Regions from separate parts of the Homo sapiens genome. Here all the other regions are linked to region 1. The links come from fine-mapping of genetic effects on gene expression. A gene starts in region 1. Each other region holds a variant in brackets. All regions are shown on one strand. Distances are between the middles of the regions.

Evidence for each region.
Region 2: its variant is fine-mapped to the expression of PLEC in cerebellar hemisphere (GTEx, PIP 0.91).
Region 3: its variant is fine-mapped to the expression of PLEC in adrenal gland (GTEx, PIP above 0.99).
Region 4: its variant is fine-mapped to the expression of PLEC in whole blood (TOPMed, PIP above 0.99).

The regions. Positions count from the first base shown.
Region 1 is chr8:143,935,810-143,943,809 of GRCh38, reverse strand. It overlaps PLEC (plectin), which reads left to right and starts at 4,213. Exons shown (of 32, transcript NM_201384.3): 1 at 4,213-4,460; 2 at 5,118-5,179; 3 at 5,570-5,659; 4 at 6,568-6,645; 5 at 6,739-6,831; 6 at 7,796-7,962. The coding sequence starts at 4,349. RefSeq lists enhancers at 500-749, 3,295-3,589, 3,767-3,826, 4,237-4,476 and silencers at 970-1,429, 1,650-1,739, 3,987-4,216, 4,497-4,596.
Region 2 is chr8:143,911,806-143,919,805 of GRCh38, reverse strand. PLEC (plectin) reads left to right here. Exons shown (of 32, transcript NM_201384.3): 32 at 1-4,653. The coding sequence ends at 3,629. Among named protein-coding and RNA genes, the nearest start is that of PLEC, 24 kb to the left of the region's middle. RefSeq lists a silencer at 3,499-3,694. The variant T/C (reference allele first, on the strand shown) is at 4,512.
Region 3 is chr8:143,430,460-143,438,459 of GRCh38, reverse strand. It overlaps MAFA (MAF bZIP transcription factor A), which reads left to right and starts at 7,728. Exons shown (of 1, transcript NM_201589.4): 1 at 7,728-8,000. ZC3H3 (zinc finger CCCH-type containing 3) reads left to right here. Exons shown (of 12, transcript NM_015117.3): 12 at 373-801. The coding sequence ends at 404. RefSeq lists enhancers at 1,124-1,907, 1,908-2,693 and silencers at 2,495-2,669, 7,372-7,811. The variant A/G (reference allele first, on the strand shown) is at 3,554.
Region 4 is chr8:143,965,867-143,973,866 of GRCh38, reverse strand. It overlaps a transcript of PLEC not described here. Among named protein-coding and RNA genes, the nearest start is that of PARP10, 17 kb to the left of the region's middle. RefSeq lists silencers at 1-113, 124-583 and enhancers at 317-1,164, 1,165-2,014, 6,740-7,516, 7,517-8,000. The variant C/G (reference allele first, on the strand shown) is at 4,089.

The DNA of each region.
Region 1 (8,000 bases):
AGGGGACGTCGGTGGGCGCAGGACGAGCAAGGTAAGCCCCGCTGGTGGCTGCCAGGGACTCGAGGCGGGGCAGAGGGGCCGCCTGCCTCCCGCCCCTTCATTCCCTGCGCCCTCCCCTTCCTGTTTCCAAGCTGAATGTCAGTGAAAGCAGTGTTGCCCCTCCACCCCACCCTGCAGTGTAGACCCTGACCCTGCTGCAGTCCCAGGGCGGGGCGGGCTCTGCAGTGGCCCTCAGCCTGCAGCCTGTGCGGGACAGGTGGGTGGAAGCGGAGGCCGGCAGGGCAGGAGCGTCCCCCACACGAAGGGAGGCCTGTGGCAGCCGCCGTGGCAGGGACAAGTGGGCAGGTGCCTGTCCGGCCAGCACTGAGGTGGAGGTGGCTCCCTGCACACACAGCAGGGGGTGGAGCCACACGCAGGTGAGGCAGGTGCCCTCATGCCCTCGGGCCGCACAGGGGGCGGGGGCAGCCAGGCTGTGCCCTGCCCTCCCTGCTCAAAGTCACCAGCTCCTGGGCTGTGGTCCCAGGTGGCAACCGTGCCCAGCACAGGATGGGGCGGGGCCCTGGGGATTGGGCAGCCTCAATTATGGGCTTCTGGCCAGAGGGACTGCCTATCGGGGACCTGGCTGGCCAGACCTCTCCTGCAGTGAGGGCGCTGCCTGGCTCAGCTCCTCTGCTGGATCCCCGGACTTGAGATGAGTCAAGATGGGGCTTCTAGGCGTGGCGCTGGGGACGCCCGGAGCTGCCGGGGACTCAGCTGCCAGGATGGGACTTGGGCTGAGGGCTTCTTCCCCATCCATGTTTTTGGCTGGGGACCAGACACTGTCCCTGCCTCCCCACCTCAGCCCACAATTGCCCCCTTCGGCCACGGTCCTGGCTCACAGGATGCCTCTACTCCCTGGTGGTGCCAGACGCGGCTCAGCTCCTCGGTTCTGCCTCCAGCGTTGTCTGCCCACCACCTGGCCCCATGCCCTGCCTTCCTCCCTGGGCCCTGCAGTCCCCACCGCACATCCTGCTGGGAGGCCCCCTCCCATGCCGCTTCAGTCCCAGGGCAGCCTCCCAGCCCGGCCCGTGGGTTGGGGCGCGGCTTCCTGGCTGCGCTGGGCGGGGCTGCGCGCCAGGGGCAGGTTCTTTGGGTCTGGGCCTCGCTCCCGCAGTGGGCGGATTGTGGGGGGGAGGTGGAAGAGGTGGAGAGCGAAGCCGGCAGCCTCGCAGCGTGGGCTGGAAGCAGAGGCGCCGCCGCGGTCCAGCTCCCCGCACTGTCCGTGGGCCGAACCAGGGCTCCGGCCGTGGCCGGCATGTCGGGGGCGGGGGGCGCCTTTGCCTCGCCGAGGGAGGTCTTGCTGGAGCGGCCGTGCTGGCTGGACGGGGGCTGCGAGCCGGCCCGCAGGGGCTACCTCTACCAGCAGCTGTGCTGCGTAGGTGGGTGCAGTGGCGTGGCCGGTGGCACAGAAGGGGCCACCATCGCTCTCACCTAGTGGGGCTGGGTCTCTGCTGGGAACCGCCGCCTGGGCTGGGATGGGGGTGGCGCCTTGGCCCGGTGCAGCCTTGCCCCCGAGCTCCGGAAACACCTGGGGAGGAAGGCGGGGTGATGTTCCCCTACCCCCATTTGTTTGTCTCTAGAGAAGGGGCTGGAGGGGGCGGGGCTGGAGGGGGCGGGGCTGGCCCACCCCCGGCTGTTCCACGTCAGCCTGGGCTTTGGCCTGGGTTTCCAGGACACGGGGGAGGGAGGAGGTGCTGAAGGCGGGGCTCCAGGCCTTCTGTGGACTTGCTGCAGTCCTGGGCCAGTGGGATTCCCTTCCCAGTCTTGGGGTTTCCATCCTAGGACCGTCTCCACTAGCTGCGGGACCTCAGCCATAGGGTCCACACCTGTAAAACGGGGGCGATACTCCTCAGAGGGCCACGGCAGTGCCTGTCGTGAGGGACCCTGGGCTGGCGGCCGAGGGTCAGCAGCCCTGGACAGCACAGGTGTCAGGCAGGTGTGCAGAGGCACCTGAGCTGGGGGTGTTCTGGGTGCGTCCCAGGTGGGAGAGCCAGCTGAGCTGCAGCTGTAGAGGGTGGGTGTAGCCTGGCTGGGTGGGGCGGGTGTGTCTGTTGGTTTTAGGGTCAGAATAGGATTGGATGGGGCGGGGCAGGCTGGGCTGGGAGGGAGGGGAGGTGATGAGGAGGGAAGAGCTCAGAGCAAAGAGGCACCCAGAGGCAGGAAGTAGGGAAGGGGAGCTTGAGCCAGGCTTGGGAGGTGGAGGCCCCTGACCGAGCCCCCAGCCCACCTGGTCCCAGCCCTGCCCCGCCCCAGCCCTTCTCCTCACCCGGTCCCAGCCTTGCCCGAGTCCGTGTCTGGAGTCCCCACCGTGCCCCTTCCCTTCCCTGAGCCCCTGCCCCATTCCTGACCCTGGCCCGGCCCAGGGCGGCATCTTTGGAGGCCTGTTAGTGGCAGGGAGAAGGCTGGAACAGGGGCCTGGCTGGGGTGGGCTCCACGTGGGTCCTGGACCTTGGCCCCGGCTCCCAGTTTCCAGCTGTCGTGGACTCCCTGTGCCCACCTCCCTGGCTGTTCCGGGATCTCACACTGTGCCTCAGCAGAGTGGCAGCCCCGTTCCTGCAGGCAGGAGCCACCTGGTCACGGCCGGGCCCCCAGAGCCCATACCCAGCAGGCGCGGGGCTTGGCCTCAGGGTAGCTGCTGGCCCAGGGCTTCTGAAGAGGCGACAGTGTTTCCAGAGGCTTTGGACCCAGGGAGGGGCGGCAGAGGTGTGGGGTCCGGGGTGCCCTTGGGCACAAGACTGGAGGTGCTGACCAGTGCGGGGTCAGATTTTGATTTGGGGGCTTCTGGTGACTCCTGAGGTTCTGGAGGCTGCTGGGCCGGACAGGCAGAGCAAGAGGGTCACCCTGAATCTCATGCCAGGCTCAGAGACCATGCATGGAGACCAAGGGGTGTCTTCGTTGGGCGGCGTGTACGATGTGGCAGAGCCCTAGGGGCTGGCTGTGCCCCTTGGCGTGGAGTGGGGGCTTCCCCACCTCTGAGGGGTTTGGGCACCCCCCATTGTGAGGGTTCTGGTGCCCCCTCACGGCCTCAGGGGCAGTAGGAATGAGGTGGGGTGAGCTCTTCCCAGAACTGAGGCCGAGTGCAGCTCCCAGCTGGACCGAATCTGCCTGATGTGCGGCTGGAACATTCTTGTGGTTGGGGCAGCGCATTCTTTCCTATGGTGGTCGGGTGGGCTGGGCAGGCCCAGAAGCTGGCCAGAGGCAGCTCCGCCCCGGACCCCAGGGAGCCGGAGGCCCCAGCCAGCGCAGGCCCTTTGCCCTTTGCCCTTTACAGCATGAGACTGCTTCCCTTGAGCCCCACCCAGCTGCAAACAGCACCCCCCACCCCTGGGGTCGCCCAGGTCCTGCCTCAGGTGTGGCTTCCCCTCTGTGAGTCACAGGCTTGGGCCCCCTCCCCATCCCTGACTCACTGGCGAGGCCCCTCCTGGGGCTTCCCGATGCTCCATTCCCCCATGAGGCCCGGCCTCCGTGAGTCAGCCCTCAGCTACGCGCCTCCGACGTGAGGTGTCTGCCTGGGGCAGGGTGGGCTCCGCAGGTGGGCACTGCTCCAGGATGTGCCAGGTGGGCAGCTTGGGAGGGGCCAGGCCTGGGGTGGGACCCCACTGGCCCCAGGGCCAGGGCAGGCACCATGGGGCAGGGTGTGCTCCCCGCTTCATGCAGGTCTGTGAAGAGGTGTGATTGGGGGGCTGCAAGAGCTGACAGGCAGCAGGTCCCCTCCCCTCGCCAGGTATCAGCGGCTTCTTGAGTCCGCCCTGGCAGGGTGGGTGGGCAGAGGCTGAAGCAGGGCCTGGCCCAGGCCTGGAGGGAGCTCCAAAGAGAGGCGTGGCCTCAGAGCCCCTCCCGTCGGGGGAGCCCTTCAGTCTGTTGGGGGGTCCTTCTGGGTGGCTGTGGGGACGGCCTGTGTTCCTCTGCGGTCCTGGCACCATTTGGTGTGCAGTGAAGTGCCAGCTCCCCGTGTCCCCAGGTCCCCCTAGGGGGCTGCAGTGGTCGGGGTGGGTGAGGAAACCCCGGTTTCCTGTTTCTGGCGGGCCGAGGGCGTGTCTGTGGGGGAGGGGGCTGCTTGCTCCTTCCCGCCGGGACACTCCCCTCCCTGGCGGCGGCCTGGGCAGGGTGGGGCCTCGGGGGCGGGCCGGCCTCGCCGGGGAGTACAGCAGGCAGGGAGTGGCCGCACCGACTGGGGCTCTGAGCTGAGCCTGTGCCGAGTGAGCGTCTCGTGGGGCCGCCAGCCTTCAGCTGCCTGTGTGCCACACGGGGCTGCCCAGAGCACCGTGCCTGAGGCCGAGGGTCCGGGCGACGAAGGTGTGGGGGCAGCATGTCTCAGCACCAGCTCCGCGTGCCGCAGCCCGAGGGCCTGGGCCGAAAGAGAACCAGCTCGGAGGACAACCTGTACCTGGCTGTGCTCAGGGCCTCTGAGGGCAAGAAAGGTAGCAGGGCTCCCCTCGGGCACCCCCGCCAGGCAGGGCGGGCCCCTGCGGGAGGAAGGCCCACTTCCTGTGGCAGGAAAGCCTTGGCACCGCTGGGGGGCTGGTCTTGGAGATGGGGGTCGGGGGCCAGCCATCCCCACCCAACACGGAGTGGGCCGACAGGCGCCCGCGAGGCTGACGGGGGCCTCCGAGCGTCAGATGTCGGGCCTGGAAGGGCGAGGAACTCTGCGCTCTGGGGAAGGTTCGCTGCCCTGTCAGCAGCACACGCGGCTTCCCTTCCAACACCCCAGCGGGCCCGGGCCCTGGCTCTGCCACACCCCTGCTTGGGTCTCAGTCTGTAGAGGCCGGGGGGGACTGCAGGACGGGACTTGTGTGCCCTGGGCTCAGGGTGCGCCCAGGACCCTCCCATTTCCTCGGGGGAAGAGTCCGGGGTGGGGTGGCTGCACCTGGTGGCGCCTGGGCCCCTGGCACCTGGGTCTCTGCTGTGTGGCTGGGCTGCGGGTGAGGGCGCCTGGGTCTCAGTGTGTGATCTGAGGGAGGCTTTGGGGCTCCCCAGGCAGGACCTGGCCAGCCAGGCTGCTGTGTCTGCACGGTGGTCACCTGAGGGCCCCCGGGGCTTCTCCCAGGCCCCAGGTAAGCTGGTCTTGTCTCCCCCAGATGAGCGGGATCGTGTGCAGAAGAAAACCTTCACCAAGTGGGTCAACAAGCACCTCATCAAGGTTGGTGGCGCATGCTGGTGCGTGTCACAGGGGCTGAGGCTGTGGGAGGCGCTGAGGGAGGGTGGCCCCTGCCGCCCAAGGCTGTCCCCATGCTGCCTGTGTGCTCACCTTTCATCTCTGAAACCTGTTATTTTCTGTCCTCTTTCTTCCCTACGCCTGCTCCTGCCTCTCTCTTCCTCCTCTTCCTTCTGGTCTTTCCTGGTCTCTCCTTGCAGCACTGGCGGGCAGAGGTAGGTGCCTCCGTGGGGCAGGGTGTGTTCCGTGGGCTCCCGGGAGACTCAGCCCCCGCCTCCTTCCCTCTGGGACCAGCACCCACTCTGTAGATCAGCCACTCAGGGCCTATTGGTGGCTCTGGGGGACTGGCCACCTCAGCCGCTGCTGTCCCCACAGGCCCAGAGGCACATCAGTGACCTGTATGAAGACCTCCGCGATGGCCACAACCTCATCTCCCTGCTGGAGGTCCTCTCGGGGGACAGCCTGGTACGTGTGCCCCTGCCCCCTCCGGGCCCCGCCTGCCCCACCTGGAGACCTCTGCCTGCCTTCCCTCCTTGGGGCCTCTCCGGCCGCCCACTCTACTTGGAATCCAGCTCAACCCCTCCTGCCTTCTCCCTGGGGGCAGGCTGGCCTCGTCCCTGGCAGCACCTCCCGCCCAGGCTGCTGGGCATCACAGCCGAGGGCCTGGCCTGGGAGTGGCCGCAACCCTCGGACCTCGGCTGCTCTGGGCCTTGCCGCCCTCCGCGTCGGGACACAGTAACCTCATGCTCCGCTTTGCTTTGGTTTCTCTGCTGCTTGGACTCTGAACCTTGACCTCTGCCCTTTACCCTTTGCCCTGCTCTGGCCGGGCAGCCGAGGGAGCGGGACGTAAGCAGGAGCTCACGCCTGGTGAGTGGCTGTGCCTGCCGGCTGCAGCGGCACGGGAGCTCCCCAAGACCGTGGAGCCCGGCTTTCTGGGGGCTGGTGGCCCGTCGGCCAACCCCTGCCTGGCTCTTGGGCGGGTAGGTGGTTGGGTGTCAAGCTGCCCGTCCACCGTGCTGCCCAGAGCTGGCCTGGGACCCACCGGTGGCTGCTGTGGCTGCCACCGCCAGGCAGGAGGACCCCCCCTTTAGTGCCACTGCCCTCCACACGAGGCTTCCTGGCTATTGTCTCCTCCCACCCCTTCCTTCCTTCCCTCAGCCTGGGTCGCTGGACTTCCCGAGCCCTGATGGGCCTGGCCTGGCCCCTGGGCCGGTGGCCTCCCTTTCCCTGCGGGGGAGGGTGAACCTGGGATGAGGGGCTGCTGCCCCCTGGGGAAGACCCTTGGCTCGGTTGCTGCGGCGCTTTGGGGCATGCTGAGGGTGGGGCCCGGGAGCTGCAGCTGCACTGTGGGTGCTGACTGTGCCTCCCCACAGCCCCGGGAGAAGGGGAGGATGCGTTTCCACAAGCTGCAGAATGTCCAGATTGCCCTGGACTACCTCCGGCACCGCCAGGTAAGGCTGCCCGGCAGGCCCTGGGCCCCACCCAGACCCCTCACCAAGCCAGCCCCGCCCTGTGGGCCGTGACCGAGAGCCCCTCGCTCACAGGTGAAGCTGGTGAACATCAGGAATGATGACATCGCTGACGGCAACCCCAAGCTGACCCTTGGCCTCATCTGGACAATCATTCTGCACTTCCAGGTAGAACGGCTGCCCCCAGGACCCCCACCCCCTGCAGGAGTTTCCAGGGTAGCCTGGGCTCCTTGGCTGGCGGGTTGATCCGCTTTCTGGCTAGGGCGTGGCCTGGGAGGTGACTGGCGCCGTAGGTATGGTGGCACCTGGGTGCCTTCCTGCCAGCCGCAACCCTGGACTGGATCTGTGGCCTGAGGGTACAGGCCTCTCTCTGAGGCCACCTATCCGTGCCCTCTGGCCCTGGCTGGGCAGGGCCCAGAGCCTCCCTGTGGAGGAATGCAGGCCCCGGTGCCTGCCCTGGGGAGGCTTCTGCGCAGCACAGGCTGACTCACCCGCTGCTTGTCCTGGCTGCACAGGAAACCACAAATCTGAGAGCTGAGCAGGCAGAGCCTGGTGCTGGCACGGCAGCTGAGTCACACAGGCTGGCAGGACGACAGGCAGCTAGGGGTGGGTGGGCAGAACCTGGCCTGAGCATGCCACTGAGTGTAAAGCCAGGCTGCCAGAGGCCCCACCTGCCAGCCTGCAACCATCGATGGAGCTCGACCCCCAGCCTTTTCCAGGCCTGGGGGTTCTGGGCCAGGTTTAGTGGTACACTTGTGGGTTCCTCTTATGCCCACTGCCCTTCCACTCTGCTCCATCCCAGCTCCGGGAGGTGCAGGGTGCAGCCTAGCCCTCCCCAGCTAGGGGAGTGGGCACCTGCTGTGTGGTGGCAGTGAGGGTTGGGGGTTCTGAGCTGCGTGGTGGCAGCTGCCACCGGCTGGAGTGGCTGGACTTGTGGCCCCGAGGCATGGCCAGTCCCAGCAGCTTCCCAACAGGGAAGGGCCCTGGAGCCCGGTGCTGCCCTGGCTGGTTTGGTGGCCCCATGCACTCCCCCTGGGTGCTGAGCTACCCCTGCCCCTGTGCATGTGGCTGTGGGCACAGAGCAGGCCTGGTGGCTGTGGCTGAGCTGTGGCCTCCTCTCTGCTGTGAGCAGATCTCAGATATCCAGGTGAGTGGGCAGTCGGAGGACATGACGGCCAAGGAGAAGCTGCTGCTGTGGTCGCAGCGAATGGTGGAGGGGTACCAGGGCCTGCGATGCGACAACTTCACCTCCAGCTGGAGAGACGGCCGCCTCTTCAATGCCATCATCCACCGGCACAAGTACATGGCCCCGGGGGCAGGGGGCTGTGGGCTGGGGG
Region 2 (8,000 bases), 24 kb after region 1:
AGGACCTTTCGGAGCTGGGCTCCGTGCGGACGCTGCTGCAGGGCAGTGGCTGCCTCGCCGGCATCTACCTGGAGGACACCAAGGAGAAGGTGTCCATCTACGAGGCCATGCGCCGGGGCCTGCTGAGAGCCACAACGGCTGCGCTCCTGCTGGAGGCGCAGGCGGCCACTGGCTTCCTGGTGGACCCCGTGCGGAACCAGCGCCTGTATGTCCACGAGGCCGTGAAGGCGGGCGTGGTGGGCCCCGAGCTTCACGAGCAGCTGCTGTCTGCCGAGAAGGCCGTCACCGGCTACAGAGACCCCTACTCGGGCAGCACCATCTCCCTCTTCCAGGCCATGCAGAAGGGCCTGGTTCTCCGGCAGCACGGCATCCGCCTGCTGGAGGCCCAGATCGCCACGGGCGGCATCATCGACCCCGTGCACAGCCACCGCGTGCCTGTGGACGTGGCCTACCAGCGCGGCTACTTCAGTGAGGAGATGAACCGCGTCCTGGCGGACCCCAGCGACGACACCAAGGGCTTCTTTGACCCCAACACGCATGAGAACCTCACGTACAGGCAGCTGCTGGAGCGGTGCGTGGAGGACCCCGAGACGGGCTTGCGCCTTCTGCCACTGAAAGGGGCGGAGAAGGCTGAGGTGGTGGAGACCACGCAGGTGTACACTGAGGAGGAGACAAGAAGGGCATTTGAAGAGACACAGATCGACATTCCCGGCGGCGGCAGCCACGGCGGCTCCACCATGTCCCTGTGGGAGGTGATGCAGTCGGACCTGATCCCCGAGGAGCAGCGGGCCCAGCTGATGGCTGACTTCCAGGCCGGCCGGGTGACCAAGGAACGCATGATCATCATCATCATCGAGATCATTGAGAAGACAGAGATCATCCGCCAGCAGGGTCTGGCCTCCTACGACTACGTGCGCCGCCGCCTCACGGCTGAGGACCTGTTCGAGGCTCGGATCATCTCTCTCGAGACCTACAACCTGCTCCGGGAGGGCACCAGGAGCCTCCGTGAGGCTCTCGAGGCGGAGTCCGCCTGGTGCTACCTCTATGGCACGGGCTCCGTGGCTGGTGTCTACCTGCCCGGTTCCAGGCAGACACTGAGCATCTACCAGGCTCTCAAGAAAGGGCTGCTGAGTGCCGAGGTGGCCCGCCTGCTGCTGGAGGCACAGGCAGCCACAGGCTTCCTGCTGGACCCGGTGAAGGGGGAGCGGCTGACTGTGGATGAGGCTGTGCGGAAGGGCCTCGTGGGGCCCGAGCTGCACGACCGCCTGCTCTCGGCTGAGCGGGCGGTCACCGGCTACCGTGACCCCTACACCGAGCAGACCATCTCGCTCTTCCAGGCCATGAAGAAGGAGCTGATCCCTACTGAGGAGGCCCTGCGGCTGCTGGATGCCCAGCTGGCCACCGGCGGCATCGTGGACCCCCGCCTGGGCTTCCACCTTCCCCTGGAGGTGGCTTACCAGCGTGGCTACCTCAACAAGGACACGCACGACCAGCTGTCAGAGCCCAGCGAGGTGCGCAGCTACGTGGACCCGTCCACCGACGAGCGCCTCAGCTACACGCAGCTGCTCAGGCGGTGCCGTCGTGACGACGGCACCGGCCAGCTGCTCCTGCCACTGTCGGACGCCCGCAAGCTGACCTTCCGTGGCCTGCGGAAGCAGATCACCATGGAGGAGCTGGTGCGCTCGCAGGTCATGGACGAGGCCACGGCGCTGCAGCTGCGGGAGGGCCTGACCTCCATCGAGGAGGTCACCAAGAACTTGCAGAAGTTCCTGGAAGGCACCAGCTGCATCGCTGGTGTCTTCGTGGACGCCACCAAGGAACGGCTCTCGGTGTACCAGGCCATGAAGAAGGGCATCATCCGCCCCGGCACAGCCTTTGAGCTCCTGGAGGCGCAGGCGGCCACCGGTTACGTCATCGACCCCATCAAGGGACTGAAGCTGACGGTGGAGGAGGCTGTGCGTATGGGCATTGTGGGCCCCGAGTTCAAGGACAAGCTGCTGTCGGCCGAGCGCGCCGTCACTGGGTACAAGGACCCCTACTCTGGGAAGCTCATCTCCCTCTTCCAGGCCATGAAGAAGGGCCTGATCCTGAAGGACCATGGCATCCGCCTGCTGGAGGCCCAGATCGCCACGGGCGGCATCATCGACCCTGAGGAGAGCCACCGGCTGCCCGTGGAGGTGGCCTACAAGCGCGGCCTCTTCGATGAGGAGATGAACGAGATCCTGACCGACCCCTCGGACGACACCAAGGGCTTCTTTGACCCTAACACGGAGGAGAACCTCACCTACCTGCAGCTGATGGAGCGTTGTATCACTGACCCCCAGACGGGCCTGTGTCTCTTGCCGCTGAAGGAGAAGAAGCGGGAGCGGAAGACGTCCTCCAAGTCCTCCGTGCGCAAGCGCCGAGTGGTCATCGTGGACCCCGAGACGGGCAAGGAGATGTCAGTGTACGAGGCCTACCGCAAGGGCCTGATTGACCACCAGACGTACCTGGAGCTGTCCGAGCAGGAGTGCGAGTGGGAGGAGATCACCATCTCCTCCTCGGACGGCGTGGTCAAGTCCATGATCATCGACCGCCGCTCCGGGCGCCAGTACGACATCGATGATGCCATCGCCAAGAACCTCATCGACCGCTCGGCACTGGACCAGTACCGCGCCGGCACGCTCTCCATCACCGAGTTCGCCGACATGCTCTCGGGCAACGCCGGTGGTTTCCGCTCCCGTTCCTCCTCGGTGGGATCCTCCTCCTCCTACCCCATCAGCCCCGCCGTCTCCAGGACCCAGCTGGCCTCCTGGTCAGACCCCACTGAGGAGACGGGCCCCGTGGCTGGCATCCTGGACACGGAGACGCTGGAGAAGGTGTCCATCACCGAGGCCATGCACCGGAACCTGGTGGATAACATCACGGGGCAGCGGCTGCTGGAGGCGCAGGCCTGCACCGGGGGCATCATCGACCCCAGCACCGGTGAGCGCTTCCCTGTCACCGACGCCGTCAACAAGGGCCTGGTGGACAAGATCATGGTGGACCGCATCAACCTGGCCCAGAAGGCCTTCTGCGGCTTCGAGGACCCACGCACCAAGACCAAGATGTCGGCCGCCCAGGCCCTGAAGAAGGGCTGGCTCTACTACGAGGCCGGCCAGCGCTTCCTGGAGGTGCAGTACCTGACCGGCGGCTTGATCGAGCCCGACACGCCGGGCCGCGTGCCCCTGGACGAGGCCCTGCAGCGCGGCACGGTGGACGCCCGCACCGCACAGAAGCTGCGTGACGTGGGCGCCTACTCCAAGTACCTCACCTGCCCTAAGACCAAGCTCAAGATCTCCTATAAGGACGCGCTGGACCGCAGCATGGTGGAGGAGGGCACGGGGCTGCGGCTGCTGGAGGCTGCCGCGCAGTCCACCAAGGGCTACTACAGCCCCTACAGCGTCAGCGGCTCCGGCTCTACCGCTGGCTCCCGCACCGGCTCGCGCACCGGCTCCCGGGCCGGCTCCCGCCGCGGCAGCTTTGACGCCACCGGCTCCGGCTTCTCCATGACCTTCTCTTCATCCTCCTACTCCTCCTCGGGCTACGGCCGCCGCTACGCCTCGGGGTCCTCGGCCTCCCTGGGGGGCCCTGAGTCTGCCGTGGCCTGAGGCTGCCTGCGCCCACCCCGCTCTGCATGCGGCCCAGCCCGGCTCCCACCGAGGCGCGGGGGCCGTTTTCAACGCTTAAAGGTGTCTTCCTCCCAAGTGGTGCCTAAAGTTTAACCAAAAAGACCAGACTAATATATTAATATATATCTGCTGTCCAGACAGCCTGTATCTTGGGGGACAGGGCTGGCCCAGCCCTGCTGGCCGCCTCACCCCCTCGGGTCTCCTCACTCCCTTCTACCTGCCACTCACACAGCCAGGTGCCTTGGAGGGTCCCAAGCTGGGCCCCAGCCCACCCTCCTGTCTTCCCAGGGTAGCCCGCCTGCCAGTCCTAGCTGCACAGGGCAGCTGGGCCCAACCCTGTCTGTAGAGGGCCCTGGTGTTTCTAGCACTGGCCTGCACGGTGGGCCTTGCTGGGGACGGGGGGCCCCAGTCAGCCTCTCTCCCAGTCTACCCAGAGAAGCCCCTTCCCCATGGGAAGACGAGGCCCTCGGGCCCAGCCCCCACAGTGCTGTCTGATCTGTGCTTTCCAGCTCACCCCCCACACTCACTCCTGAGACCCCTGGCCTCCGGCGTCAGCCTCCAGCCTCTGTTCCCCTAGTAAGTGCCTTCCATGTCGGCCTCTAACCCCAGGCCCCGAGGACCCAGACCCAGTGGGGAGGCGGACGTTCCAGCCGGCATGGCTGGGAACTGCAGACCTGTCCTCCTGGTGGGTCCAGGGGCCCCTCCAGCTTGTGGAGCCCCACACTGGGGTGCCGCCTGCCCGTCTCTCTCCCATGGAGCCCCAGCCCCCTTTGGGCCCAGGGACACCAGCCAGGCTCTGTGCTGACCCTCCTGTTGCACCCAGCCCTGGTCTCAGCAGCGACCACCCCTGCCTCCACCCTC[T/C]GAGCTTTGCATGTTCCACTAACCCCGGGCGGGTGGCAGGTGGAGGTGTCAGGCTGCTGGCGCCTCTGCAAGGGCAGAACACTAACCTGACCGTGGGCGGGGCCTTGCGGTATCCGCCCCCAATAAAAGCAATTCCAACCTTCCCGTGCCTCCGGCCTTGTGTCTTGGGGTCAGGTGTGTGTCAGGGACAGGGTGGACATTGCAGCCCCAGGCTCCAGGCTCTGAGCTCAGCCACTATGGCCAGTCAGGGACGTACGTCTGTGTGCAGCAGAGACCAGGTGCTCGCAGGAGGGCAGCTGAGAGACCCTGGGCAGAGGGATTCAGTGTGGGGCAGGGTGGTGGCCACACTGAGGCCGGGCCCCCTGGGACCTGCTGCTGGTCAGGTGCTGACCAGTCTCCCAGCCCCACCCTTCGCACTATAAGGGGCTCACGTTTCCTTATCTGAGGCGGGGTGTGGTATGCTCCCATATCAGTCACTGGCTGTGGCCCCTTGGCCTCCGGGGAGGGTGCCACATGGCCCCGGGTCAGTTGGTTGCTGCTGGCCGGGCAGCCCTCCAGAGAAGGGGCCACAGGCAGTGGGCCTAGTATGAGGGCCTCCACCACAGTCTGCCATGTCTCGGCCCCATGCCCATCACACTCCGGGGATTCCATCTGGATGGGCTTCTCCAGGCTTCCGACTGGTGGCAGTTTCTGGGAAGACTTAGGGGAGGAGGGAAGCGGGGCCACCCCAGCCTGCAGTAGCCACTGGTCCAGGCTCAGCCGATACTCTTTTTTTTTTTTTTTTTTTTTTCAGGCAGAGTCTTGCTTTGTCACCCAGGCTGGAGTGCAGTGTCATGATCTCGGCTCACTGCAGTCTCCACCTCCCATGTTCAAATGATTCTACTGCCTCAGCCTCCCGAGTAGCTGGGACTACAGGTGTGCACCCAGCTAATTTTCATATTTTTAGTAGAGATGGGGTTTCACCGTGTTGGCCAGGCCGGTCTCGAACTCCTGGCCTCAAGTGATCCTCCCTGCCTTGGCCTCCCAAAGTTCTGGGATTACAGGCGTGAGCCACTGTGCCTGGCCTTCGCCTCTCCTGCTGGTGGGACCCAGGCGTTCACCCTGGGGTCCAAGTCCTAGTCTTCTCGCTCTTGCTGGGCTTTACCCTCCCTGCCCCGGCCCGGTAGAGGGTGCTCTGCCTGCTGGTCCGCTGGAACAGGAGTGGCCCCGGCCGGGTGACCCACAGCCATCGAGCGGGGCAGTGCCTTACTCTGTCCCAGGTGGCTGGGTTTTAGGACCTCTGAGCCCTCACAGCTTAAGAGTTGCAGGGAAAGGAAGCACAGGTTGTCAGTGGGTCACTGGGAGCTGGTGAGTGGGCGGCCACTCCTGCCTCTACCCCTTGGTCCCCAGACCCATGCGGTCCTCTGTGGGGCCACTGATTTAGGCCGAAGACCACATCCTGGAGGACGGGACCACCACAGTCCCAGAGGGTTGGTGTCAGGACGGTGGCACCAACTCTTTCCGAGAAGCTCGCCGACGCTCTAGGCTCTGCGGCGCCCGTGTTCCCGCTCCCTCTGCACCCCCTTGCCGGAAGCAGTCAGAGGCCCTGGGGGCCGTTACACAGGAGCCCGTCTCCCAGGGCAGACACGGAGGCATCGTGGGCTGGAAAGGTGGGTCCGTGCCTGGAATACCAGCTGTTGTCTTTCCAAGGGGAAGGGGCCTCCAGGGCTGAGTTTACCTCCAAGTGACCGGTTGGTCTCTGGCTGGTTTTGCGTCCAGGGCCCCTGGTGGTCTTTATGGCCAGAGGACGGGATGTGCTGCTGCCGACAGGAGCTGGGCTTGTCATGGGGCGCCTGGCTTCGTCTGGTCCTCCATCGCTCCAGGCGGGAGCCGTGTGGGAGCACCGGACGCTGCGTCACTGGCCGCGTCATTGGCTTGTGGGTGGCTGGGTGCCCGCTCGGCAGCCGGTGCCCCTGGTGAACACCCACAAGTCCCCACGCTGGTGTCCACCCGGCAGTTCCATTCCCCAGTCCGTCTTCCAGCGTTGCCCTTCTCAGGCCCTGACCGGCCAGCCGAGCCCTTCCCCAGCCCTGTCCACGTGTGTCCTTACCATGAGCTGCTCTCCTCTCCTCATGAGAGGCCAGGGATCGCCCCGACCCCTGACTCCAGGGCCAGCCCAAGTGGAGTGGTCCGACTACCATGAACCCAACCGCCATGAAGCAGGCCGGGCTTGGCCCCCACCCAGTCACAGGGACCCTCTGAGGCTGTGGCCTGACTGGCGGGCAAGCTGGAAGCTGCGCCACCTGCCCGTGCAGCCCTCTGGCTCTCATGGCTGGTGCCCGGCAGTGCACCGCCCCTTACCCTGGATCCTCACTGTGCCGCTGACCTTAGCCTGGGTGGGTCTTGTGGCACTGGCTCCTGGTGGGAGCTGTGGCCACACCATCCCCAGGAACTTCTCTGAACAGTCCGCAGTTCTCTGTTGCAGTCGGGACCTCCTTGCTTCAAAACTTAGGGCTGGTGCTGCAGCTCTTTTGGGCCTTGCCGGAGACCCCTTGACGCATCCTTCCCCACCTGCGGCAGGTGCTCCTGGTACAAGAGCTCTGTTAGCTCACAGGGCCTGAGTGGCAGGACTTTGTTCCACAGCCTCACCAGCTGTGCTACCCTTCCTTTTCCTGGGCCCCACTCAAAACGAGAAGCCTCTGTGCCAACTGATAAAAAGATCTGTGTGTGGTATCGTGCCGGGTCTGGTATCGTGCTGGGGCTGGCATCATCCTGCCGTGTCTGGTATCGTGCCGGGCCTGGTATCGTGCTGGGTCTGGTATCGTGCCGTGCCTGGCATCGTGCTGGGTCTGGCATCATCCTGCCGTGTCTGGTATCGTGCCGTGTCTGGCATCATCGTGCTGTGTCCAGAACCCAGAGGCCTGCCATCTGCCAGCTTCTTTCCTGGTGTTAGGAAATGCAAGGCTCAAAACTCGTTCTTGACCTTGGACAGGACGTCCTAACATGCCCAGATCTCTGGACTCCTAAAACCTTCATGACGTGACCAGTCCCTGAATCTTGGCTCAGCCTCTCTCCTGCCCTGGAGTGCCTGTGTCCTAGCAGGACGCTCAGAACGCCTGCCACTTCCCGCTTGCCAGGCCTGGTGGGTGCGATGCTGTCAGTGAGCGGACTTGCGTGTTTGCGCTTTGGTCAGTTGTCTGTGTGTCTGCATGTCTGTGCGCTGCTGTCCACCTCGTGTGAATGGGAACTGCCCCTGACCTCCTCCCGGTGCAGTGGAGAGCCCTCTGCCCAGCCAGGAGCCACAGGACACCGTCTGAGGCTGTGAGTCTGCTCCAGGAAAGACCACAGACAGCACAGCAGCTGGAGTTGGCACTGTGGGGAGACGCTGTGGCTCAGCCGCCGTCCACCACAGTCTACCCAGCTCTTGTAGGGACCTGACCAGCAAATTAAGTGGGAAGATGGTGGCCATCACCCATGCACCCTTTAGGCATCTGCGGTGTTGCTGACGCC
Region 3 (8,000 bases), 510 kb after region 1:
AGGGCAGTCTGGTGCTGTGTGCACCAGTACTGATGGCCCACCCTGCAGACCTTGTGGCCGGGACTGCCGCCCGCCCAGGAGGACCCCTGGACTGTAGGCAGAAGCCTCAGTTGACCTCATAGACTGAGCCTGCACCATGGCTAGACAGCCACAGAGGCTCACCAGGACCTGTTGGCAGCAGGGGGCAGAAGCTGAAGCCTGTGGCCTGTCTGTGCTCTTCTCCCTCGAACTCAGGAGGGTATCTCTGCAGACCTTGCTGTGTGTGCTTGGGCTGACAGAGCCCCCCGATCCTGAGCCCGATCAGGAGCTTTGCAGGCTGGGGAGGTTCTTCCAGGGGTTTCCGGGCACCTAACTTTTGCCCTCTTTGCATAGGGAAGCCTCTGCACATCAAACCACGTCTGTGAGGACCCCAGGGACCGGCCTGCACCTACCTCAGACCCTCATCCTTGGAGAGGAAAGAGGCTCTGTCCACCACTCTACCCCACAGGAGGGCCGCCCGCCACCAAGCCTCACCTGGGGGCCACAGGGACACTGCTCTGCCTGCCTGGCCCTCAACCTTCCATGACCAGCGTGTGCGCAGGGCCTGGTCTTCCTCCCCCAAGCCAGGCCCCTGTCCCCACCCCACCACCTTCCAGGGTGCCAGGCAGGGCTGGCCTCCAGGCCTGTCCCCGACTGCCATTGGCAACAGTGGCCCTGCAGCCCCCAGCCCTCCCCACCCAGGTTTTCGGCCCAGTGAAGAGGCCACTGGCCAGGCCTCCCAGGCAGGTGTTTTATGTTCAGCAATAAAGGTTCTATCCGTAACTGGTTGGCTTGTCCTGACTGTTGCCATGCCACCGCCAGGCGGAAAGCACCGCCCCTCTGGGCAGGAGTATGGGGCCCCTTTCCTACCTCCCACGATGGTTCAGAAGTCAGAAGGCGCTTCTCCCTGGACCTGAGCAGCACCATCTGGGGTGGGGAAGGCCTAGGGGGCACTCTGGGGACCCGGATGCAACAGGCTAGAGCCATGGTGGGTGGGGCAGCTCGGCCAGCTCCCGGTTCCCCTGCCCTGCACGGGTGCCCGTGCTGGAGGGGCCTGACCAGGAGGCCTGGCTGAGGTTGTGCCACAGACCCTGGATTGGGAGAGGCAAGGCCTGGAGGGGCAAGGCTCCTCTCCTCACCTCCAAAGAAATGGGGGGTGGCCCCTGGGCGAGGCAGGCCAGCAACACCTTCAGGGGCCCCACGGCACAGCCTGGAGTCAGATGCACGAGCCTTGTGCCCTCTGCCTGCCTGGGCTCTGGGTGGGTGGCACTGCCACTGCCCACCCCACACCCCGCGGGGCCCCTTGGCCTGGTCCACACTCGGGCGGGGAGAATGCTCCGCCCCCTTGAGGTCGCGGCCTCCACCCTGAAGTGGGGTGTCCTGACGTTGGCATCAGAGGGGACGAGGCGTGAGGCTCGTGCGACGGTTCCACCAGAGCGAGTGCTGGGTGACACGGCAGCAGTTTCCGGTTCTCTCCACAGTGCTCGTCGCTGTGGCCTCTACCCTGGGGCCCTGGGACCCAGCCTGTGGCCTTGGCCCTGCTGGGATTCCAGCCGGATCGGGTGGGATGGCGGATTCTGGAAGCCAGAGCTGTGGGTGGGGTGTGCCCAGCTGGCTTCTGTCCCCTCCAACACTGGCTCAGCTCACCCAGACCCAAGTGTTCACAGGGGCTTGTGTCCTTGTTCGGGACCCCAGATTTGAGGGTGGGCACCGGCTGGGCATGAGGCGGCCAGATCCTCTAACTTCACTTTGTGCCACCGGGAAGCGTCTGCCGCAGGCCCGGTGCGCAGCTGGACCCACCCATGGGTGCCACTTCCTTTGGCCACCCTGCGGCTGGCACATAGCCCCTGAAACGTGAAACGTCCGTGGGGGCTGGGGAATAGGCTCCCCATCCACCCAGCGCCTGTCTGGGACCGTGAGCGCTGCCATCTGACACACGGCACAGCCACTCGGAGGCCCAGGGCACTGCTCTTGGGCAAGGGGGTGTGATGGCAGTTCAGGGCCAGGTCCACTGTCCCCAAATGCAGCCCCCCCCAGGAGTGGCCAGCAGGAAGACTCAGAAAAGGCTGGCCACTGCCTTCAGGGGGCCACCATGGTGTCCCAATCCCCCACCTGGGGACCTTGTGCAGCCTGGGCTCTGCTTGGTCTCAAGTCCTTGCGTTTCCCCTGCATGGAGTGTGCCCATTTGGTCACACGAGGCCCCTCATGCCAAGGGGCAGCTGGCAGCAGACCAGTGACTGCCAGGGCACCTGGCCAAGGGACCTGGGAGGCTGGGACTAGCAGAGTCCCTGCCCCTGTATTGACCATGGCCCCAGCTGAGGACAGCCTGGTGGAATGTCCCCTGCTGGGGTGGTCGGAACAGGGAAGGAGAAGGCTTCCTGAGGAGAGGAGGGCGTAACCCTGCACCCAAGCCTGTGCGTGCAGCAGAGTGGTGTGTGCTGGGGCAGCCGGATGGAAACCCTGAAGCGGAAGCACACAGCACCCTGGGGGGTCCTCAGAGCCCTGGCGGGGCACGGCCGGGTCCCAGGCAGGTGATGCACCCCCCCAGCGCCAAGCAGATGGGTCTTAGCGCTGTTGTCTCTTATAAGGGAGATGTGATGGCCGCAGAGGTGGGAGCCGTGGGCAGAGTCCAGGGCCACTGCGGGAGGTGGATGGGCGAGCAGGGGTGCAGCAGTGACTTCAGAGTGTGGTTCTGTGCCCTGTGTGCCTGGAGGGGTGCCGGCTGGGCAGTCGGATGCTGGCCTGGATGCCCCTGGGGGCTGGGAGGTGACCGAAGGGAGAGTGTCTGGGGGTCCGCCGGGAGCGCCAGCACCTTCCTGGGCTAGGCCTGTGCCCATCCTGCCTCTGGGCTGAGGGCGTTGACCCCGCCTCACTTAGCGCCCAGCAGCACGGGAGCTCCGGGAGGGCAGGGAGCTTGGGCGTGCAGTGGCTGAGCGAGTGCCCTGACTGGCGCCTGGCATACAGCAGGCGCACCATCCGTGCTTGAGTAGGGGCACAAGGAAGGGGCGGAGCAGCGACAGGCTGAGGAGGGACTCTCAGGAGGCCCTGGGCAGAGCAGCGACAGGCTGAGGAGGGACTCTCAGGAGGCCCTGGGCTTGTTTTTTGGTTGTCGTTTTTAAATGCAAATGAGCCCCTGAGTGGAGGAGGGGCGCCCGGGCAGCAGGAGCAGGGTGGGGGTGGAGGCAGCCCCAGCAGCCCCCTAGCCCAGAAGATGCAGAGCCTCTGTCTGCGGGACGGAGAAGGTTCTGTCTCCTGTGATCAGCTCCGCACAGCAAACGCGGGCACTGGGGGTGTGGGGGTTCTCCCACCTAAATACATGCCCCAAAAATGACACTCCAGACCCCACGCGAGGCTCTACGCAGTTCCGAGCACTTACTCTTGGGGCAGCAGGGTGAGGTTCAGGAGGTCCACGCATGGCCTGGCAGGGTTAGCTCAGCCCTCCTGCGCAGCTGTGCTCTGGCAGGGGTGGAGGAGCCGTGCCAGGAGGGTCCCCTCAGGCCCCTCCCTGCAGTAAAATGCATGAGCTCAGGGCCCC[A/G]GCAGACAGCAGACTGCGTGGGGTCCCATGGTGGACAGCAGAGGGAGCTGTGGGGTTCAGCTGGTGAGCACCCCAACCTCCCTGTCCCTCCTCGTACCAGGTTTCCCTCCACCCAGAGCCCTCTGGGGGCCCACGATGACTTCCTGGGCCCTACACCAGCCCCCATGGGCTCTGATCTTGACCCAGCCACCCTGGGCCCTTCCAGGCCCCTCCCAGGCAGTGGCTCTGGGCTCCCTGCTCCCCGGCCTGAAGGGCTTGCCCCTCCATCTGCTCAGGTGTCTGTGAGGCCCCCCAACCCCACCAACCCAGAACTCCCCACCTAGCCAAGCTTCCGCCTTCTCACAAACGAGTGTGGGGGACAGGCCCTGAGGTAGCCTCATGACGCACCCCCCTGCCCAGCGTTCCCACCCTTGGGTGACCCCTTTCCTCCGACAGACTCCTGGAGGGTGGCCAGATGCCGCAGCTGTGATCACGGCACCTTACGCCCCGCTGAGAGCCTCTCCCTGCTGGCCCGAGGCGTCAGGGCCTGTGCTGGGGCTGCACCTGGTGAGGAGCTCAGGGTGGCCTCCAGCCTCCAGCCAGCAAGAAGCCGGTCCTCAGTTGTACAGATTTAAGGAAATAATTCTGCCAACAGCCTGACGATGCCTGGTGGCACAGCCCTTCTCGTCCCACGTTGAAACTGTAGCCCGGCCACCTCCTAGACTGCACCCTGGACGGGGGCTCCTGCTAAGCCCTGCCTGGACACCTGGCTCACAGAAGCCACAAGACCATAAATGTGTGTTAAGTTACTAAACGTGTGGTAATTGGTGAGACAGCAATAGAAGGCAAATCCACTATCATTTTACTCATTATTATTATTTGAGACAGAATCACTCTGTTGGCCAGGCTGAAGTGCACTGGCGTGATCTCGGCTCACTGCAACCTCCGCCTCCCGGGTTCAAGCGATTCTCCTGCCTCAGCCTCCCAAGTAGCTGGGACCACAGGTGTGCACCACCACGCCCGGCTAATTTTTGTATTTTTTAAGTAGAGACGGGCTCTTGCCAGGTTGGCCAGGCTGGTCTCAAAATCCTGACCTTGTGATCTGCCCACCTCGGCCTCCCAAAGTGCTGGGATTACAGGCATGAGCCACTGTGTCCGGCCTCATTTTACTTACTATTTTTATGGCTGATTTTCTGTTCTCTGAGGCCCACTCGGCAGACTGTATTTTCCAAAAACACTACAACAGTGCATCTCAGCCCACAGGCCCCTTCCTCACATGACCTACACAGGCAGTGTCCGTACCCCTGCCCAGGGGGGTGGCCGACCTCTACACACGAGGACCACCAGCATGGTGCAGTGTTCTGAGGCACATGCACCCCTCCACCTTCCTCGGATGCACACACTGGGAACCAGCAGCCATGCTGTGAGGAAGCCCAACCAGCTGCAGGGAGCAGCCCTGTGGAGGTGTCACAAGCAGCTGTTTTGGCCGACAGCTCTCACCATCTGCCAGGCCTGGGTGTGAAGACCCTGCCCAGTGGCACCATCCATCAGCTGTCCCGTTACCCCAACCCCCAAGTCCTCCCAGCTGTCAGGACCAGAGGCAAGCTGTGCCCCTATTCCCAGGACACATCTCCCCCTTACAGAGCCCATGGATGAAATAATACTTGTGCCATCAAGCTCCAGGGGGCTTCTCAACAAGGGACCCTGGCCACCTCCCTGATGGGATGTGCCCCCTAGGCAGGCTGGCTGACGTACTCTAGGTGCTCAAGAGAAGCCTGTTGGGTGCATTGAGTTACCCAGCCACACAGACTGCCCCTGCAGAATTCTGTGAGGACCAAATGCTGAAAGTTTGGAGGGTGTGAGAAGCCCTTGGGTTGGGAGGCTGGCGGGAAGGGAAAGCGCTTCTGGGAGCCCAGGGAACAGCGGAGCACAGGCGAATTCTAGGGAGCCATCCTGGCTTGGTGGTGACAGCACCAAGCCTCAAGGAGGGCTTGGCAGGCTTGGGGCGGATGGGTTGGGGTCAATCTTTGAGGCCACCCCAGCCTCCACCACCTTCTCCCACCTCTCAGAGCAAGATGAGGCACTTAGGCTTCCTGTGGGTGGTGGCGGGATGGGGGTGCCACTGAGTCCAAGCATGGCTGTGGGGTCAGCGTCCCTCAGCCTGAGGTCACAGCTGTGGCCCCGGGGAAGGTTCCCACTGCAACAGCCTGGGGTCAGGCGTCTCCTTCATTCCCACGGGTGTGCTGGAGTCCTCCTGGGCTGGTGACCAAACACCCTCTCCTGGTCTCCTTGGCCTGGCAGGAGCCACAGTGCGATGGGCGGGAGGGGGGGACAGTGGGGACACAGCCCGGTGCAAACACTCTCTCTTTCCTCCTCAACCCCCTTTCCAGTGTGCCCCAGGGCCTCCAGGGTGTGGTACCCAGAAATGCTGCTAGACCCTTGGAGGGGCCGTGGGAGGGCCCTGTAGCCCCAAGGCCTCTCCTGGGGCTGCAGGTGCAGACAACCTGGACTACCACCAGCTCCACTGCGCGGCGGCATCCTCCCTTCCCGGGCCTCCCTCTCAACACGGGGTGCCATAAAGGAAACCCCACACCCCTGGCTGGCTGACCACTCGTGTGGTCTCAAGTCCAGGTACCCAGTGTGGGGACTTGGCTCTGCTGCATGCCCACTTCATTTCTTCATCTGTAGAAGGGTGGGGAGCTCAGAGCCCCCTCTGGGACAGGATCGGGGGAGAGGGGTCCCTGCAGGTGGGTCCTCATGCTGTCCTTGGCCCTCCCTTGCGGGGAGGAAGGCCTGGTCTTCCCAAATCAGCAGTCCCAGCTCTGCCCAGAGGAGTGGGAGGGCCCAGGGAAGGGCCAGGGACACCCCGAGACACCTTAGGAAGCAGATGTTCAGTCCTCACTTCATGACAGTCTTCTTGTTACAAAACAATAGATCTTTGTAGAGGGAAGGAGGTGAGAGCCTGGTACTAAATCTGCGGCGCCGTGACCAGGCCTCCCTGTGGCCTCTGCGCAACTCCTTCCAGGCTTTTTTTCTCTACACAGGTGGTTACATTTTAGACTTTTTTTTTTTTTTTTTAAATTGCTGAAGTCATAGAACAGCAATGGAGAGAATTTCGAGAAGAAACAATAGGCCCACTTCGGGTCACCGGCCTTGTAACTCCTGGCGCAACCCTCCCATCACCCGGCTCGCTGGTGTCGGGGACCTGGGGTCACAGGCCCACCGCCCATCGTCACCTCCTTTGCCCCGTGAACCGGAGCCGTCTCCTCCCAGCAGGTGCACGGCCGCCAGGTGGAAATCCCCGCCTTCCCGTCTCAGTTACCCCCCGTCCCACTCCAGGCCCAGCAAGGCGCCTCCAGCCCTGCGGGGGGCGAAAGTGGGCAGTGGTGGCCGCTTGGGCGGGGATTCCTAACGCCCTGAGGGGCTGCCAGCCCGTGGGCCCCGCCCCCGCCGCTCGCACCCACCCGCGTTGTCCCGCGACCCCCACAGTCCTGCGCTCTCCGCGGCCCCCCACAAGCCGGCCCTCCGTCCCCGGCCCCTCGCGCCGCCCCGCACGCGTGTGTCCCCCTCCGCCCGCCCCGTGCTTCCCGGTGCCCGGAGGTGCCGGCAACTTTGTTGACCAAATTCCTGAACGCGTCTGAGCCGCGGGCTAAAAATAACCGGCTCAGCGCGCCGCGCTCTGCCGGGCCGCGCGGTGTCACCCGTGTCCAGAGGCCCGGAGGTCCCGCTGCCGCCGCCGCCGCCGCTAGCGGAGCTGCCCCCGGCCCCCAGGCCCGGCCGCAAACCCAGGGGGCCGAGGGGGCGTCCCGCCGCGTGGCCCGAGGCGGACGAGGCCCCGAGGGGGTCCCCGGGCGCGGTCCCCGTCTGCTTCCCCGGACTCTCCGGCCGCCGGGTGTGGGAGCTGAGGCCCCTGGAGACGGCAGTTGTCCCCTGAGGCGGCGCGCCCTCTGCCCGTGCAGTGCCCCGTGATGGCCACCAGAGGGCCCTGCCCTCTCCTCTAGCCGGCGGCCCGTCCCTACCTCTTCCCACAGCTGTTTCCCGCAGGAGATTGACAGCTGGGCTCTGAGTTGCCATGGGGATAAGCAAATGAGGGCGGCGGGGCTGGGGCTCCGATTGGCCCGGGGGCGCGCGCCCCTCCCGGGGAGGCGGGCCCAGGCACCCGGCTCTATAAAGGGGCGCGCGCGGCTTCGCGTTTAGCCGTGGGAGGCGGGGCCGGCCGGCGGCGCGGGTGGGGCGCGGGAGCGGTCCCGGAGCAGCCCGAGGCGGCGGCCGCGGGGAGGAGGCGGCGACGCGGGCCCGGGGTCGCCCGAGACACCTGGCCAGCGGTGCCCCTAGCGCGCCGCCCCGGAGTTGACCACGTGAAACTTTTCCCTGCGCCCCTCGGCGCCGCCGCCCCGCGCCGGCGCCCCCCCGCCCCCGCCGGGACCGCCGCCCGCGGGGAGCAGGGGGGGGAGAGGCCTGCAGCTCC
Region 4 (8,000 bases), 30 kb before region 1:
AAGCAAGGTGGGGGGCGGGCAGGGGAGCGTCTCGGAGGCAGGTCGCCGGCCCGGCGGGGAACAGACAGGTCGCGGCCGCCCCTGGGCGGGGGCCACCCGAGGACCCCCGGGCGACCGCGGTGTCGGCGGCCGCGACCCGGGCGAGAACGGGAAAGGGCGTGCGTGCGGGACTCGGAGCCCGCGGAACCGGCCCGCCGGGAGGGGCCCAGACGCGGCTCCCTCTGCCCGGCCGCGGCGGCCCCGGCCCCGCCCCGCCCGTGGGGCATCCTGGGTGCGGGGGCGGGGCGGGGGCGGGGCGGGGGCGGCCTCTTTAAGCGGCGCGCGCGGCCGCGGGGACAGAGTGGCCGCCGGGTGCTGGAGGCTCCGCTGCACCCCGCGCCCCGCGCCCGCCGGCATGGCCGGCCCGCTGCCCGACGAGCAGGACTTCATCCAGGCCTACGAGGAGGTGCGCGAGAAGTACAAAGGTACGGCCCCCCGTCCCGCTGCCTGTCGGGCCGCTCCTGACAGCCCAGCCGCCGAGCACCTTGTCGTCCACGGTGGCGGTCCCGATCGCCGGCCCGAGCGCGGCCACTCCGCCGGCCTCGTCCGCCTGGATCGCCCCCAACGGCTGCCAGTGCCTAGGGAAGGGGAGGACTCGCTCCGCTGAGCCCCCGAGGCCATGCCCTTAATAGGGCATCGCGCGGCTCGGGTGGGTGGGGTGGGCCGCGGGCGGGTGGGGGCGCTCAGGGCTTGTCGGGGTCGGCTGTCTGAGCCAGGATCCGGTGTCTGTGGCCAGCAGACACATGGGTCAAGGCTGAGCCATCCCCTGCCCCACCTCTGGGGCGCGTCTGCATGGAACAGGGGCAGCTCCGCCGCCTGGCAATGGGTCACATAGTTGCCGCCTCTCCTCACCTCCCTAAACTGGCGAGGGCCTGGGCTGCCACCCTTCCTTGGCAGGGCACCCCCCCCACACCCCTTCTCTGTTCACTAGGGGACAGCTGTGGGCTAGGGGTCAGGGTGGCCCCTCCTTCCTCTCTAGGGGAGCATCAGAGTGGCCTGCCCACCTGCTTGATGCCTCGGCAGACCCCCTTGCCCTAGTCCACGCCCACGGGGAGCCCCTGGACCCTCCCAGGTCCTGGTCCCACCGGCCATTCTTGCAGCCCAGCTGCCTGGCTCAGCCTGGGTCGCCCGGCTCCAGGCGGTTGTGGACACAGCATTGGCTGCCGGCCTGCAGAGGCTTAGGAGCAAGGGACTGAGCTGCTGGGGAGGGTCGCGGTGGGGGCCCCCAGGCAGAGCCGATCAGAGCAGACTCCAGCTCCACGTGGCTGGTTTTGCTGGCTCTGCCCCCAAGGGCAGCTCAGGGAGAGAGGTCCTGCTGGGGCCCCGTGGTGCCGCTCTCCACCACAACCTTGCCCAGCTGGGTAGGTTTCATGGTGCCCCGAACTCATCTCCTTCAGGCGTCCTCCAGCGACGGCTCTGGGGCAGGGTGGATGTACTGCTGTGGCTCTCTTTGACAGTGCTGTGCCCAGCCGCTTTGCCTGTGTGACTAGTTCATTCGGGCCAGGGGAGACACTCCTGCACCCTTGGGGAGGCCTGGAGCGGGCAGCCTGTTGCTCATGCTCTACATGGCCGGCCCTGCCTTAGAGGGAGCACCCGGAGGGGTGCTGGGGTATAGGGCAGGGAAGCAGCCGCCCACCTGGGCTCCAGCCCTCCTGGCAAGCCCCAGGACAGAGCTGTTTCTGAGCTGACCACTCTGTTCAAAGTGCGGGAACTGTGCAGGATCGTTTCCTCCTGGAGTTCTTCATCTGGTCAGGTTGCTGGGCTGCCTGGGGTGCCCCAGCCTGTTCTGGGCATTGTGCTGAGGCTTTCCTGGCCCCAGGGCTGTCTTTCCTCTACCTCCTGGGGTGGGAACTACTTCTGATTCATCCAGGGGTGAGCCAGACAGATCCCTGGAGGTTGCTGGGACCCTCTGTCAGGGTCCTCCCTCCCAAGCGCAGCTCCTCTGGAGGCCAGGATTGGTGTTGGGCACACTCGCAGTCTTGGCCCATTGTCTGCCTTCTGGGCTTGGTGGTGGAGGCTGGTGAGGGGGCAGGGGGGCCGGGGGGCTTGCCTGAAGTGGAGTTGTCACGTGATGGTGCAGCTGCCCGCATGTGTGTGGCACTGGCCTGAGAGTGGCTAAACAGCAAGGCAGGTGCTGAGGCTCCGTGAGCACACCAGGTACCCCAAGTCTCCTTAGCTCCTGGCTTGAGACAAGGGGACGGGAGGGGCTGGGCTGGTACCTGTGTCTGGGAGCCACGGACCAAGGCTGAGGAGGGCCTGCAGGAGGTCAGAGGTGGCCCCTGTGCCCTACACCTTTCCAGGCCTGACCTCTGTGAGCCCCTTGGACCTGCTAGAGGGCTGGAGCCCCGGCCCTTCCTGTCCCTGGGGTGGAGGGACTGTGGGAGGGCATGGCACCCCTTGCCAGCCAGCCAGTGACGGCAAGGCAGCCCCAAATCCCTCCATGGTAAGCAGCTGCGGGCCCCTGTCCTGGGCCCAGCTCAGCATTTGGTGGTTCTGAGGAGGGCAGGGAGGCCAGGCCTGTGCCCCCTGCCCAGCTGATCCCTGCACTGAGGAGGTGCTCTGGCTTAGGCCTCCTGGCCTCCTCCCCTCTGTGGCATTGCCTCGGTTCCACCTCACTGTGCCCTCTCACAGACAACTCCCTGTCTGACCCTCACTCCGGTGACCTTCACCCCCCACCCCACAACGTCTCAGACCCTCCCCTGGACACGTCATTCCCTGGCTCTCCCCTGGAAATCCCCGGTCTTCCCTGTACAGTCAGGCGGCCACTGCTCCGCTTGGAACATCGCCAACTTCCTGTCTGCCTGAGCCCCTCAGCCCCCCCATTCTCCCTGTCCCCCATCCAGGGCAGATTCCTCTGGGGCTGAGGCTACTGCAGCCTGTGGCGGGAGAGCTCTGGGCACCCTGTGGGAGAGGCCTCCGTGCTGAGGGCTGTGGGCTGGTGACTTAGACAGTCGGCCCAGCTGCCAAGAGGTGTCCAGTCGCCCAGCGCCCCAAGCCTGGCCTGTGACAGCTCATAGAGGCTGGGCCGTTCTGCCGCACCATGGGAGCCTGGAGAGAGACCTGGGGTGGGTGTGGCAGGGCGGGGACAGTTCTAGGAGAGAGTTGTGGCAATGCAGGTGAGTGGAGGTGAGGCGGCCAGTCCATAACTGAAAAGAGAGCGGTGTTGCCAGGGGCTGGGTGAGAAAATATCCTGGAATTGACAGCTACACAACTCCGAATCTACTGAAACCACTGAATTGGACGCTTTGAATGGGTGAATGGTGTGGCATGTGAATTACCTCTCAATAAAGCTATTAAAAAATACTAATAATCAGCATGAGGTCAACCTAATTGGTACTGACATGAAAAGCCAGTGGCTCCAGAGGAAATCTCAGTCTGAGCTCCCTGTAAAGGGGCGGCCAAATCCGTGTGCTCTCTCCCGCCCTCTCTCATGCACAGCGATCGCCCCAGCCGGGAGCCTGAACCCAGAGGTGTGACTCTCCCCGTTTTTCTTTGTATACTTCCACCCTGCTTGATTTTTTTTTTTTTTGGAGCGTTTTACTTTTGACAGTAAACACCGACCAAAATTCCTCTCCAGTGAGCCCCAAATAACCTCCAGCCTGCCCTCTGCCAGCTGAGCACCAACCACTGCAGATGACGCCCTACGCCATCACCCACTCACCCGTGCAAACACCCTGCAGTGCTGGCTGAGGGCCTGGGGCCAGTGCCAGGGACACAGATAACCAAGCTCAGAGTCCAGGACAGGGGAGAGTAGGGGACACATGAGGAGGGGGCCAGGCACAGTGGCACTGGGCAGGCCCAGGGCTGGCAAGGGGTCCTGAAGAGAGTGCAGGCCACAGGCTGGGCACACGCCCTGTGGAGACCCAACACACCCAGCCCCTCTCCAGGCCCGCTTTTCCCCCAGACCAATGCAGGCCTCCCACCCCTGGCCCCTGCCCCACACCAACGCCACCCACTCACCAACGGTACTCACCCCGGCCTCATTCTCACCCCTGCTGCCCTCTCCAGGACCACCTCACAGCACCCCTAAGCCCCACTCCCATCCCTAA[C/G]ATGACAACCTAAAGTCTCTATCCCCAGCTGCCCAGGCCCCCGGCTGGCCCCACTCCCCACTCCCCGGCCTGCACTCATGCCCTGACCCCCAGGACAGGCCCCTGCCCACAACGCTGGACTGCTGCTGGGCCGCTCTTTCTTTCTTCACTGACCGCCTCACCTCCACTCACCTGCATTGCCACAACTCTCTCCTAGAACTGTCCCCGCCCTGCCACACCCACCCCAGGTCTCTCTCCAGGCTCCCATGGTGTGGCAGGACGGCCCAGCCTCTATGAGCTGTCACAGGCCAGGCTTGGGGGGCTGGGCGACTGGACACCTCTTGGCAGCTGGGCCGACTGTCTAAGTCACCAGCCCACAGCCCTCAGCACGGAGGCCTCTCCCATAGGGTGCCCAGAGCTCTCCTGCCACAGGCTGCAGTAGCCTCAGCCCCAGAGGAATCTGCCCTGGATGGGGGACAGGGAGAATGGGGGGGCTGAGGGGCTCAGGCAGACAGGAATGGTTATGGATTGGCCTGTACTGGCCCTGGGTCTGGCCTCTTCGACTTGCCGGGACGCTGTCAGGGCTGCTCACATCGCCGCGCCATCAGCACCTCACCCTCCCCCCGCTGGAGTCGGTTCCGTGGTGTGGAAGTGCCCACTTTTGCTTATGCGTTTATCAGTTGACGGATAGTGGGTTGTTTCCACCTTTTGGCTGTTATGAGTGAGGCTGCTATGGACGTTTGCATACACGTTTTTGTGTGGTCGTATGTTTTTTATTTCTGCTGGGTAGATACCTAGGAGTGGAATTGCTCAGCTGTGTGGTAATTCTATATTTAACCATTTTGAAGAACTGCCAGATTGCTTCCTAAAGCGGGCGTGCCATTCTGCATGCCCAGTAACAGCCGGGTGCGAGGTTTCCAATTTCCTCACATCCTCACCAACACTTGTTATTATCTGACTCTTTGATTGCAGACATCCAATCCTAGTGGGTGTCGAGTGGAATCTCATTGTGGTTTGATTTGCATTTCCTGATGGCTAATGACGTTGAACACTTTGGTGTGATTGTTGGCCATTTTTTATATCTTTTGAGAAATGTGTATTTCAATCCTTTGTCCATTTTAGAATTTACCTTTTGGTATTTTTGAGTTGTAAGTGTTCTTTATATATTCTAGATGCCAGTCCTTTATCAGAAATATGATTTGCAAACATTTTCTGTTTCTGTGGTCTGCCTTTTTATTTGCTTGCTGGTGTCTTTTTTTTTTTTTTTTTTGAGATGGAGTTTTGCTCTGTCACCCAGGCTGGAGCAGGTTCAAGTGACTCTTGTACCTCAGGCTCCCGAGTAGCTGGGACTACAGGCGTCTGCCACCACACCTGGCTAATTTTTGTATTTTTAGTAGAGATGGGGCTTCGCCATATTGGCCAGGCTGGTCTCAAACTCCTGGCCTCAGCCTCCACAGTGCTGGGATTACAGCGTGAGCCACCTCACCTGGCCGGTGGTGTCCTTTGAAGCACGTACATTTTAATTTTAATTATTATGACTCCAGTTTATCTATCTTTTTCCTTGGTTGCTTGTGCTTTTGGTGCCATATTTAAGAAGCCATTGTCTAATCCAAGTCATGAAGCTTTACACCAATGTTTTCTTTTCTTCCTTTTTTTTTTTTTGAGACGAAGTCTCGCTCTGTCTCGCTCTGTCACCCAGGCTGGAGTGCAGTGGCATGATCTCAGCTCATTGCAACCTCTGCCTCCTGGGTTCAAGCAATTCTCCTGCCTCTGTCCGCCGAGTAGCTGGGATTACATGTGTGCGCCACCACACCTGGCTAATTTTTGTATTTTTAGTAGAGATAGGGTTTCCCCATGTTGGCCAGGCTGGTCTTGAACTCCTGACCTCAAGTAAGCCACCTGCCTCAGCCTCAGTGCTGGGGTTACAGGTGTGAGCCACCGCGCCTGGCCTGAATTCTTTGATTATTAATTAAGCTGAGCACATCTCCTAGAGTTGTTGACTATTTGCACCTTTTCTTTTGTGAACTGCCTATTCACAAGCATTGTTGGCCAGGCTGGTCTTAAACTCCTGTGCTCACATGGAAATGGAATCAAGGGATCCTCCTGCCTTGGCCTCCCAAAGTACTGGGATTACAGGTGTGAGCTGCTGCCATGCCTGGCTACTACACCTTTTTACATCAGGGACTTGAGCATCTGTGGATTCTGGTATCCATGGGGAGTCCAGAACCCATCTCCCGCTGATACCGAGGGACACTTGTATTCGGCGTAAACTTCGAAGTTGCCTGTGGGCAGCACCAGCTCACGGAACAGAACTTTTCAGCTCCTGGAAAGTTCCTGCTGAGTCCCCACTGGGCACACCATGGATGGGTCTCACACCACGCATCTATTTTTGTTTAATTCTGTCTGTTTCTTTTTTTTTTTTTTTTTTTTTTTTTTTGAGATGGAGTCTCGCTCTGTTGCCCAGGCTGGAATGCAGTGGCGCGATCTCGGCTCACTGCAACCTCCGCCTCCCGGGTTCAAGCCATTCTCCTGCCTCAGGCTCCCGAGTAGCTGGGACTACAGGCGCCCGCCACCATGCCCAGCTAATTTTTTGTATTTTTAGTAGAGACGGGGTTTCACCGTGTTAGCCAGGACAGTCTCGATCTCCTGACCTCGTGATCTGCCCACCTCGGCCTCCCAAAGTGCTGGGATTACAGGCGTGAGCCACCGCGCCTGGCCTAATTCTGTCTGTGGTTTCTTTAGCCATATCAATTTTTAACACTCACCAGTCTTTTATGATTTCTGGATTTTATGCTATGCTTAAAATGGCCTTCTTTTAGAAAAACATCTGCTGAGAGTTGCTTCCAGCACTGCTGCATTTTTTTAAACATCTCTGTCGTTAATCTTTGTGGAATTTGCTTGGGGCTGAGGTCGAGATGTTCAAGGAGGCTCGATGTCATGCTTGGTGTCACGCTCATAGGGTCTGGCCGTGGGCTTGTGGGTTACAGGGATGATTGTAAACATCTCCCCTTCCACCAATCCGGCTTCCTGACGCAGGGGCTGTGTATTGCTTCACTTCTGTGCCCCCGAGCCGAGCCCTGCCCTGTCCTGTGGCAGAATCCAGCTTCCTGACGCGGGGACTATGTGTTGCTTCACTTTTGTACCCCCCCAGCCGAGCCCCGCCCTGTCCTGTGGCAGGTGTGGCTTGAAACAAGCGTTGGGTGGGAGGGATAGGTGGACTTGGAGCTGGCTGGACCCCTGCAAGATCCTGGCCTGGTGCCTCCCAAGGAGCGGCTGAGGAGTCCCCCGTGGTGGCTGTGGAGGTAGAGAGCAGCCTGGGGTGGAGAGGATGTGCCTGCGGCAGAGAGGGCGGAAGAGCCAGCGCTTAGCCTTGGGTGCATAAAATCAGAGATGCCTGTGAGATAGGTATGCGTGTGCAGACACTGAGGTGCAGGAAATGCTGGGCTGAGGTGGGGAGGCCAGGCTGGGAGGCCATCACTAGGGCAGGCCTCGGGCCAGAGCTCTGAGCCTGGGGTCCTCCAGAGCTTAGGTGCCTATGAGAAGAGGCAGCCGGGAAGCAGAGCAGTGGGCAGCTGTGCAGCCATGGGGGCCTGTTGGGTCTGCGAAGGAGGAAGGGGCGTGAGGAAGCAGGGCCACGTTGGGAGCAGGGTGAGGCCTGGATGGTGCTGGGACCAGGTGATGAGGGGTGTTGGGACCTCAGCGGGACTGCTTGGGGTGTCGTCGGATTGGAGGTGCCAGGGGGCATGTGGGAAGTGCTCAGGAGGCCCTGCTGGTGCCAGGCTATGGTGGGTCCAGCAGGGTGGCAGGGAGGGAGAACCCTCTCCAGGACAGAGCGGTGACATGGAGGCTAGGCCGCAGCAGGTCACAGCCTCAGCTGGATGCTGGCCCGAGTTCCCTGGGGAAGGAGTTCCCTGGGCCTTGGCCTGAGGGACC